2 separate regions of the Homo sapiens genome follow, and region 2 is linked to region 1. The links come from fine-mapping of genetic effects on gene expression. A gene starts in region 1. The other region holds a variant in brackets. All regions are shown on one strand. Distances are between the middles of the regions. Region 1 holds the start of MACIR (macrophage immunometabolism regulator). Region 2 has its middle 97 kb from the start of NIHCOLE.

Region 1 (5,385 bases):
ATGTGTGAGGCTTAGCAGGATGGTCCCAGATCTAGGAAATTCCTCTGGCCTCAGGTGTGGTGCCGGAGCCAAAGGGAGGGAACCAGTGTATAGGGCAGGGCCGTCTCGTCTATAGGCAGGTTGTGCACTGTATCATGGAACCATAGGTGGCAGCTCCAGGAAGGAACAAAGGAAACCTCTGTGGACAGATGACTGCAATCCGAAGGACCTCCCCTCCACTCCCTGCCATCATCACCCATTCATGGTCTGGTCTGGCATATGCTCTTGGAACTTTGACCCTGCTCGAGGGAATGAGGGAAGAACTTTACAAAAGAGTAAGGCCTTTAAAGAGAAATAAAATCAAGTGCAGATTCACGTTCTATGTTCTTCTCCTAGTCTCCTCAGTGTCTCAAAGGGCTGATCCCCGTAGGCTGTTTCCCTGGCTCCCATGGCAGGTGTATCAGACTTGGCCAATGCAAGGCACTGGAAGGAGATTGGAGGGCAGGAGAGGAGAACGTATAGTACATTTCCCCCTTCTCCCTCCCTAGATTGCTTCTTTGGCAGTGGTTGTTTCTCCTCTATGGCCGCAGCTCTCACCAGGCTGGCCATGCTGCCTGGGCCCTGGACTCCAATAACCCTGCCTCTTCTCTTATTTCTCCAGCTAGAGGTCGCAGTTGCTAGTTTCTGGATTACTGTGCCATCTCCTGATTAGCTTCTGACTTTTCCTATCACCTACGTTACCAATTTCTTGCATTCAATTACTTCTGTAGATACTCAAAATGGTTTCTGTTTTCCTGGTTAGACCCTGCTTGAAACAAATGAGTTTATAGAAAAGAAGGTAATGTGGTATTTCTTGCACACCTGTCTTTGTAGATTCTGTTTTACATCATTATGTTGTTATCAAATTCACCTATTCTGTTCTCTCAAGCTGGTTGTTTGCTAGCCGACATCATTTACATCAACGTAGTATAATATTTCCCAGGCAGCTGACATTTTAAAGTCATTTTAAAGGGATTTTCTGGAAAGGATGCCTTGAGGCAAAGACATAACTTACACAAGGAGTGTGTGAGATGGAGCTTCTGAGTCCCCAAATTCAGAAGGCCTTTCAGGGCTCTGGGTCTATTCTACATTTGGGCCTAACCCTTTATATGAATGCCATTTTTCTTTATAGGTTGAAGAGATCTTCCTAAAACACTAAAAAGCTCTGGGAAGGGATTCTGCATTAACTTGCACCTCTTATATGCCCCTCAGCCACGGCACTTGCAACCCACATCCAATCCGAGTGAAGACAATACCCAGTCAGTATCTCTAGGTGGCATAAACATATCCTTGATGGAGCCACACATAAAGCTATTATCAACCATTACTGCATGGTGAATTGGTTTATTAGGTGTTCTTTGTGACACTCAAGAACTGACTTAGGTTCTGATTGGGTGAAGATTCAGGGTTAGGATGGGAGCATAGAACACCACCCAGGGAGGGAGGCAATTTGGAGACAATGCCCTCAAGAGAGCTAGCCTTGAGCCTAATAAACTAAGAGGGGAACTTTATTGCTTTTGGCCAAAGCACACTGCCAAACTCTCAGCGCAAAGGGCAAGTACAAGACATTCTTCTGAAAAAGTTATAAGATTTCAGACAGGAAGAAATGAAATTAAGTCTCTTAATATAAAATATACAATGTTTTGGAGGTGGTTTTATGAGAATGATCATCAGGACAATACACTATTGTGTCAAACAGATTATAATCGGAAATAATTCTCGGTGTATTCTCCTAATGTACTGATGCAAAAAAAGTTTCTTCATTTATTTATTCATATTATGTTGTGCTAGCTTCTATATTTTTGAAATTACATGCAAATCTATGTCGGGAAAAAAAGTAACTGATGTTTTGTAAAATTGTTTAGGGAACATTCCTTAAAACTTATTCTTCCCTCTACCTTCCTTTACTTATTTTAGGGCACATAAGCAGTAGCATAAAATGGCTTATAGCTGAGCGGCCTCCGGGAGTGGTTCTGTTGGACTAGAGGTGTTTATATATTTTTTGCCTTTATATTATCAGGAACATATGTAGATTCTGGAACAAGTGTGAATCAAGACTCGTTTAAACTTATATTAATCTACTCCAGATTTATGTCTTTTATGTTAAGATAAAGCATTTTGTCTTTTAAAAAATAAAACTCTCTTGATTGGACACTGGTACCGAAATTTATAACACTTATAAACAATTTTGGGGTTCACCGACTGCGTACACATTCAGCCTTAGCCACTCAGTAGGCATATGACCTAAACTTTCTGCATTTTTAAAATGTGGATCATAATTGGTTACTTCCTCACAGAATGGTTATTGAGAGATGTAAATTTGGATATGCATGCCAGTAAATATTCTTATTGCTGAGCTTAACCAGTTCGGCAGAAATGTACATGAATTGAGAGAAGCAAATCTTCATCAAAGAAAATAATTTATTACAATAATAGACAAGATCAACATTTGTGCAAATTAAAAAATAGTTAATCCAATCAGAATCTGAATTTGAACTCCCCCCCCCGCCCCACCCCGCCACCTTCACTGGGTATTACGAGTTTTCGTAGACTGATCCTATAATTTTTAATTTCATGGCCTTCTAGTTTTCTGTACTTTTGCTTAGTGCTGAGCCCTTTAAGCAGAGACTCACAAGTGACAAATATCAGCACACCACTTAACTGAGGAAGCCGGAGTGTTCCCAGGTCCGCAAGTTGGAGCTCTTTAGTTGGAGTGCTGGGTTTAGACTAGAGAGCGGGTGTTGCGACTCCTCCTCCCCACCACCAGTCAACAACCCCGCCCACCCCCGCCAACTTCTTCTGGCCTCTTAGCGCCTTTCTGCAGCCAGCCGGCCCGCCCTTCCTCCGGGTGTCTGAGAGCTGGGCGCAGGAGGCGGGCTCAGCGCTGACGGGCTGCGCCTCTGCAGCCAGAGGGAGGAGGCGGGAAGGCGGGCGGAGGAGGAGGCGGAGGAGGAGGCGGAGGAGGGGGCGGGGACTAAGCAGGGCGGTAGCTGGCGCCGAGCGCGGTGGGAGAGGAGAGGGTACCCGGCTGGCTCGGCTGGCGGCCTCTGCCTGGATCTCGGCGCCGCAGTCCTGCGCCTCTCCCGCCCCTGTCTCCCGCTCCGCAGCCCCGGGCACGGCGGAGGCAGCGGAGCCCTGGGCCATCGGTAGGTTGCACGGGGACGACGGCTCCGTCTGTAACCTTTTGTGCTGCAGAAAAGGTGGTGGTTATGGGGGGCTTGGGGGAGTGGGTTTGCCCCAGGCTCCGATCCCCAGTGCCAGCCCTAATCGCGGCGCCGCCCCTTCCTCTCCGCCTCGTGTCTGGGCCGGGCGCACGATGCCCGCGGTGCTGGGGAAACCCGGCCGGACCAGCTTCTGCGATGGGCGGCGGGGCGGCCCCAGCGTCCCTTGGCCTTGGTGGACCGGTTCCCAGGCACCCGAAGGGGACTGGGGTCTGGTAAACTGGGTGGGGCCCGCGCGGGGTGCGGGGAGCTTGCGGTTCCCTGGCACAGGGGTGGGGCCGCAGACGCCGTGAGTGTGCAGCGCGTGTGAGTGTGCGGGGGCGTGCGCCCCCGTGTGCGCGCGTCGTGCGCTCGCTGGGGAGGTGCGGGGACTCGGCGACCCGGAGCGCCTCTCCCGCGGTGCCGCGGTGCGGAAGTCGGGGCGCGTTGGCGCGCACGCTCGCTCGCTCCCTCCCTTGGCCGCTGTTCCCGCACCGCGGGGCAGCGGGCCTGGAGGCCCCTTTGAGAAGTAGCTTTCCCCGGCCGGCGGCACCTTTGGCTGCGTGCCCGGCCGCGCTCAGGGTGCGACTGCCCGGGTCAGATAGCACCTCAGGGCGAGCCCCGGCGGTCTGATCTCGCCGACCCTCCTCGTCCTGGTTGCAACCCGCGTGCGAGGCCGCCCGCGCCCTCCGAGTGTCTGCCGGTGCAGTGGGGGTGGACTGGCCGGCTGTGGCCGTGTGTGCGCGTGTGGATTGGGGCCCGGTCCGAGCCAGAAGCTTAAGCGGCAGATGTCGGGCATTGCCACCCTCGCCCCACCTGTCGCGGGTGGACTTTGGGGCAGGTGGGAAGCGGAGGAGAGGGGTTTCGAGGCGGGTGGCAGTCAGACCTCCAGCAACGCGGCCCCATTGTGAAGCTGCCAAACTCTCTCTAGTGGTGGAATCTGCAGGTCTCCGCCAGAAAGGAGATGGGAACGCGAAGGGAATGATGGCCCCGTCCTTTTCCCCTTGCTAGTGTTCCACACGCTTAGGGACTCCCTGCCTCTCCTTCCACCTCAGTTTTCAACCCAGTGGGTTACTGATTTGGGTGGAACCAAGATTTCCGTGTGTGTGTGTGTGTGTGTGTGTGTTTGTGTGTGTGTGGTGCACAGGTAAAGCTGGAGCTGGGAACTTTTTATTTGAGCAGGAAGAATGGAGGCATTTTACAGTGTGCTTGCCGCTCCTAGCTGAAAGAACAATTCTTGCATATTTCTGATGTTACTAGACTCATTTTCCTTTTTTTTTTTTTTCCGAAGAGCCAACCTACAATTTAGGGTTGTTAGTTGTTTTATTTTCTCAAATCCTGTAATGCTGGATTGACACTATAGAGGTAGAAATGACCCTTTTGCAAAGTTTATTTTCCCAGTCATTTCAAAATATAGTATTGGTTATTACGGCAGAAGCTTTTGGCCGCGATTTATGATTACACTATTAAGTTTAATGAATGTGTCACAGAATCCTCAGTGTTTTAATTATGTAACTGTGAATGCATTATAAACTGAAAAGTAAAATGAACAGGATGGAATATAAGAGTTAATGAATACAGAGACCTGTTAATTTGATAATAATTGATGTATAGAATATGCTTTTGCTAACAGTTTATTTAATTGCAAATGAAAGTGTTAGTAATTATTTCAGTGTATAAGATATATTTATTGATATTATATAACAGTCAATGAATTTGCTTATTTTCTTTGTATATTTCTGTGTATTTTAGAGAGCTATTATAAAATTAACTCAAAAGTACTTAATATGGTTAGAGTAATAAAGCTTTATGTACAGGGTTTAAAATTTCTTTGCTGATTTGTAGCTGGGGGTGAGGTGGGGGATCAGCTCCTTTCCTCCAGAGAGAACTTTGATTTTGTCACCAGCCTATCAAAATGAGTACCTGGTTTTAAGCCTTCCCAAAGATTAGCCAATTCCACAGTGTACACCTGTTCCATTTTGATGATACTTCCTAAGAGACAAATTTCTTGTAAAGGCTGCATGTTGACCTTTAGTTCCACTTACTGTCGGTCATATTTGCAGTGAAACTGAGTATTTTTCTAAAAGTAGAAGGATGACACCACGTGATAAGAAGATATTAGTAACCTAGGTTTAATTTTTACTAGCAGAAATGGAAAGATAATGAG
Region 2 (5,385 bases), 730 kb after region 1:
GGAGTTCGAAACCAGCCTAACCAACATGGTGAAACCCCATCTCCACTAAAAACACAAAAAATTAGCCGGGCGTGGTGACACGCGCCTGTAGTTCCAGCTACTCCGGAGGCTGAGGCAATAGAATGGTGTGAACCTGGGAGGCGGAGCTTGCAGTGAGCTGAGATCACACGACTGCACTCCAGCCTGGTGACAGAGCAAGACTCGGTCTCAAAAAAACCCAAACAAACAAAAAGAAGCTACATATTATATGATTCCAACTATATGGCATCCCGGAAAGGCAAAATTATGGAGATGGTAAAGAGATCAGTGATTGCTGGGGGCTGGGGAGAGGAAGAAATGAATACATGGAACACAGAGGGTTTCAGGGTCAGAAAAACTACTCCTTGTGTGATACTATAACGGTGGATACATGTCATTATGTATTTATCCAAACCAATAGAATGTACAACACCAAGAGTGAACTCTATTGTAAACTATAGACATTGGGTTATATCGTTGTGTGCTATGGTCTAAATGTTTATCCCCACCACCACTAAATTTATATGTTGAAATCCTAACCTTCAAGGTGATAGTGTTAGAAGATGGGACCTTTTCGAAGTGGAGCCCTCGTGATTGGGATTAACACCCTTATGACAGAGACCACAGAGGGCTGGCTAGTCCTTCTATACTGCCATGTGTGTACAGTAAAGAGATGATTGTCAATGAACCAAGAAGCGGGCCCTCAGCAGACACTAAATCTGCTGACACCTTGATTTTGACTTCCCAGTTTCCAAAACTATAAGAAATAAATTTCTTTTTTAATAAGCTACACAGTTTATGGTATTTTGTTATAGCAGCCTGAAGAGAGTAAAAGGATGTAGAAATATAGGTTCAGTAACCATAACAAAAGTACCACTCTGTGGAAGATGTTAGTAATGTGAGAGGCTATGAATGAGGTGGCGAGGAGGTGGTATATGGGAAATGTCACTTTGTTCTGTTCAGTTTTGCTGTGAATCTAAAACTGTTCTAATAGATAAAGTTGAATACAATATTAAAACAACAACATGTTACTGTCTTTGTAACTATTCAATGACATTTAGGCAGGGCAGAGGCTATTGGACATTATATATATCCTTAAAGTCTCCCTTTATATATATACACACAGATATAAATATATAAGTATAGATAAAGATGAAGCCTAAAAACCTAGTTTAATTATGTTAAATTTCATTAGGGAATATGTAATTTTACCTCTCGCTTTTATTATAATGGTCTTGACTTGAGCTGGCCATGCACATTTTCACCATGCTGAATTTAAAATTGGGCTACTTTATAGAGTTTTGAACAAAATGCTGATTCCCCTCAGACTCTTTACAACATTGCTCTGAATCATATGAATTGCCCTTAATCAATAAAGCAGCACTCATTTGACTGGCCCTGTAATGTGTAACCTTCTATTTCCAAATATGGTAAACATAGAGAAGCCATCTATGTGAGAAGGTTTGAGTAGGCTTTACTCCCATTTACCCTAGTATTGATTTCTATATATGGCAGGAAGGAGGAAAAGGGATGTTTTCATCCCTTCTCAGTTCCTATCCCTAAATTTTTATCTTACCAAGAACTCAAATGCTGTTTCCTTCTTTTTTTTTTTTTTTTTTTTGATGGAGTTTCGCTCTTGTCATTCAGGCTGGAGCGTAATGGTGCAATCTTGGCTCACTGCAACCTCCAAATCCTGGGTTCAAGCAATTCTCCAGCCTCAGCCTCCTGAGTAGCTGGGATTACAGGCACCCACCACCACACCCAGCTAATTTTTGTTTTTTCAGTACAGACGGGGTTTTGCCATGTTGGTCAGGTTGGCCTCGAACTCCTGACCTCAGGTGATTCACCCACCTCAGCTTCCCAAAGTGCTAGGATTATAGGTTTGAGCCACTGCAGCCAGCCAACTGTTTCTTTATGATTGAATGACAGCCATAACTAGGACAATTTACTTGGATGCTAACAGCTTGTGCAAAGATCTAGGAATGCAGATCTAGAAATATGAGGATTAGAGCCCTAATGACATGGGATAGGATGGACAGAGTCCAGAGCCAAACTTCTCCCAACTTAATGTATGTTAGTACAATCACTATGGAGAACAGTTTGGAGGTTCCTCAAAAAACTGAAAATTGAGCTAGCATATGATCAGGCAATCCCACTGCTGGGTATATATCCAAAGGAAAGGAAATTAGTATATTGAAAAGATACTTGCACTTCAATGTTTTCTGCAGCACTATTTATAATAGCTAAGCTTTGGAAGCAACCTAAGTGTCCATCAATAGATGGATGGATAAAAAAATGTGGTACATATGCACTGGAGATCATTATGTTAAGTGAAATAAGCCAGACACAGAAAGGCAAACATCATATGTTCTCACTTATTTGTGGGATCTAAAAATCATGAACTCACGGACATAGAGAGTAGAACGATGGTTACCAGG[G/C]GCTGGGAAAGGGGAGAGCTGGATGGGGCGGGGAGGTGGGAATAGCTAATGGGTACAAAAAAATAGAATGAATGAGACCTACTATTTGATAGCACAATAGAGTGACTATAGTGAATAATAACTTAATTGCACATTTTAAAAAAGAGTGTAATTGGACTGTTTGTAACTCAAAGGATAAATGCTTGAAGGAATGAACACCTCATTCTACACTATGTGCTTATTTCACATTGCGTGCCCATTTCCAAATATCTAATGTACCCCATAAATAATACCTAATATGTACCAACAGAAATTAAAATTATAGTAATAATAAAAAGAAAAAAAAGACTCATAACTCCCAAAACACCCAGATATGTTTGAAATATCCAATAAAGAGATGGAAGGGGCAGATAAGCTCTTCAATAAACATCACAAAATGACTCCATTCATTCATAAAGCAACCACAATGACAATCCAACTTCTGTAATTTGTTATATTTTCAAATCACAACTCAGGACCATTTTTCTTTCTTTCATGCTGTGATACAATACAGTGATTTTGTCCTCAAACAATAAAATGTAAAGCTAGCTTTACCTACATTTAGATAAATGTACTGACATAATGACTTCTTAACTTGCTATTTATTTCACACTAACAATTTAATAACAATGAAAGAGATATTTTTAATTAATATTAAATAAATACATAACCTTATAGACTATGTAAGGTTTTTATAGTTATTCTCATTTTTCCAGGAGCTGTTAACATTAAAAAGAAAATATAACAAAAGAAAACCCAGCCATTGAAGTCACAGGAACCTGGTTTTGAATTATGATGAATTTATCACTTTCCAACTCTTTCATATATGAAAATTTGTCCTTCTTATGAACGTACATTTAAATAATCTGTATGATAAAGATAACATAATAATATTACAATATTGTGTTAAGAATTCAATACATTTCTAGAATGTTAACTTTTTTTTTCCTTTCTAGTCATCTCATAGAGGGCTCAACAATCTGATTTTTCCCTGAATAATTTACCAATTATTATTTTAAATTTGGAGAAAAATGTAAGTGTTTATATGTAGTCTTTATATTAAGGGGTAGTATTTTATCATTTACCATAAATTAATGAACTTATTTCCTTAAAAGGATATTGTAAATCCTGATAAACTTAAGCACACTTTCTTAAAATTGAGAAGTCATGAGGTAGAGAATATGCCCATGAAATTACCTAAGACTGTACGTCTGAAACCAGGATTGTCAATGAAATTACATGTCTGGCTGAGAGTAATAGATGACTGGTGAGTGGTATTTCAGTTCTTTTCTGTATTCTACTGTTATCATAATGAACATTTGTTAGGTCTTTACACTTTATTTGGAATAAAATCAGCATGCTCATTCATGTCTCAGAAATTCTCTGTGGTGTCCCTTGGGGTGAAAGAGATAGAATTATGTGATATGTGTAAACAGGGATTAATCTAATCTTAGGCAAATCCACACTTTTCAATGTGAGTGAGGTTTGCAGAGGATTATAAATATGATGAAGTTAGATACAGTTTGACATCTTGTTTTTTTCGAGCGTTAATTTTTTAAAAGCTTTTCAAAAATTACTTATTAATTTTTGGTATGCAAAATCACACAGAAAAAAATCACTTGAACAACATGTCAAGTTTACTTTGAGTTGAGTGTTAAAAATGTCTCTTACCTATTGGAATGGGAATTAGGTTTGATGTGATTCTAAAAGGCATCTCTATCTTCTTTGCAAAATGGCAATTGTCTTGCCTAGAGACATATGTTGAAACAATCCACATAACTTGGGACATCTTGTTCATTTTGATTCTCAGCACTGTTCATCACTCGACTGCACACCATTTATTTGGTGGCAGCCTATGAACTCTAAAGTAAATGAGTCTGGTTGCAGGGGTGGAGGGGGTAGAATAGAGGAGAGAAGGCTAACATACATCATGTGGCTGGAAATTATATAATAGGAAATTACAAGCCATCACACTGAGGTTTAAGCTTTAGCTATTTCTGTATAAAAAAATAGTTTGGGGAGATTGGACTTTATCCAAAATCAATTTACAGCTATCAATTTAAAAAAAATCTTCACAGAGGGATATGGATTTGACACCTCTGTTAGAGCTAAACTTCTGAGACTATCAGGGATCAACACGTCAGTTTAATGAAGAATAAAAAAATCCAATCAATGCAACATCCAAGGTCAAGGTATGGGATGAAATAGAGTAAGTTGGGGTTTCCTTTCAGAAGGCTAATAGCAAAGTAGCGTTAACTCCTGGGATGTTGATAGGTATTAGAACCTGGATTATGTAAAAGAATAGGCCGGGCGCGGTGGCTCACGCCTGTAATCCCAGCACTTTGGGAGGCCGAGGCGGGTGGATCACGAGGTCAGGAGGTCGAGACCATCCTGGCTAATACGGTGAAACCCCGTCTCTACTAAAAATACAAAAAAAAAAATTAGCCGGGCGTGGTAGCGGGCGCCTGTAGTCCCAGCTACTCGGGAGGTTGAGGCAGGAGAATGGCATGAACCCGGGAGGTGGAGCTTGCAGTGAGCCAAGATAGCGCCACTGCAGTCCAGCCTGGGCGAAAGAGCGAGACTCCGTCTCAAAAAAAAAAAAAAAAAAAAAAAAAGAATAGATGATATAATTAAAACAATAGAAATCATATCTGTTTTCAATATCTAGGGTAGAAGAGTAAAAACATTTGAAGTTATTAAAGTATTGACTGGTCAAAGAGTAGAGGGAAAGGCCATAAAAGGTTATAGTTTCCCTAGAGCCATAAAATCAGAATAGAGAAATAGAGAAGCAACACTACATGTGCAGTATAAATGGATTCAGCTGTCCATGACTATGACTGTGAGCTGTTGGTGATTAGAATCAAGACTATTCTATCACAGCTGGAGCCGTTAGAATGGTCTTGGGTGGGAT

Evidence for each region. PIP is the estimated chance that this variant, and not a neighbour inherited with it, causes the effect.
Region 2: its variant is the best candidate, but not a certain one, in a credible set for the expression of MACIR in fibroblasts (GTEx, PIP 0.90).

The regions. Positions count from the first base shown.
Region 1 is chr5:103,255,733-103,261,117 of GRCh38, forward strand. It overlaps MACIR (macrophage immunometabolism regulator), which reads left to right and starts at 3,031. Exons shown (of 3, transcript NM_033211.4): 1 at 3,031-3,164. RefSeq lists silencers at 2,692-3,201, 3,412-3,791.
Region 2 is chr5:103,981,050-103,986,434 of GRCh38, forward strand. No RefSeq gene overlaps it. Among named protein-coding and RNA genes, the nearest start is that of NIHCOLE, 97 kb to the right of the region's middle. The variant G/C (reference allele first, on the strand shown) is at 2,457.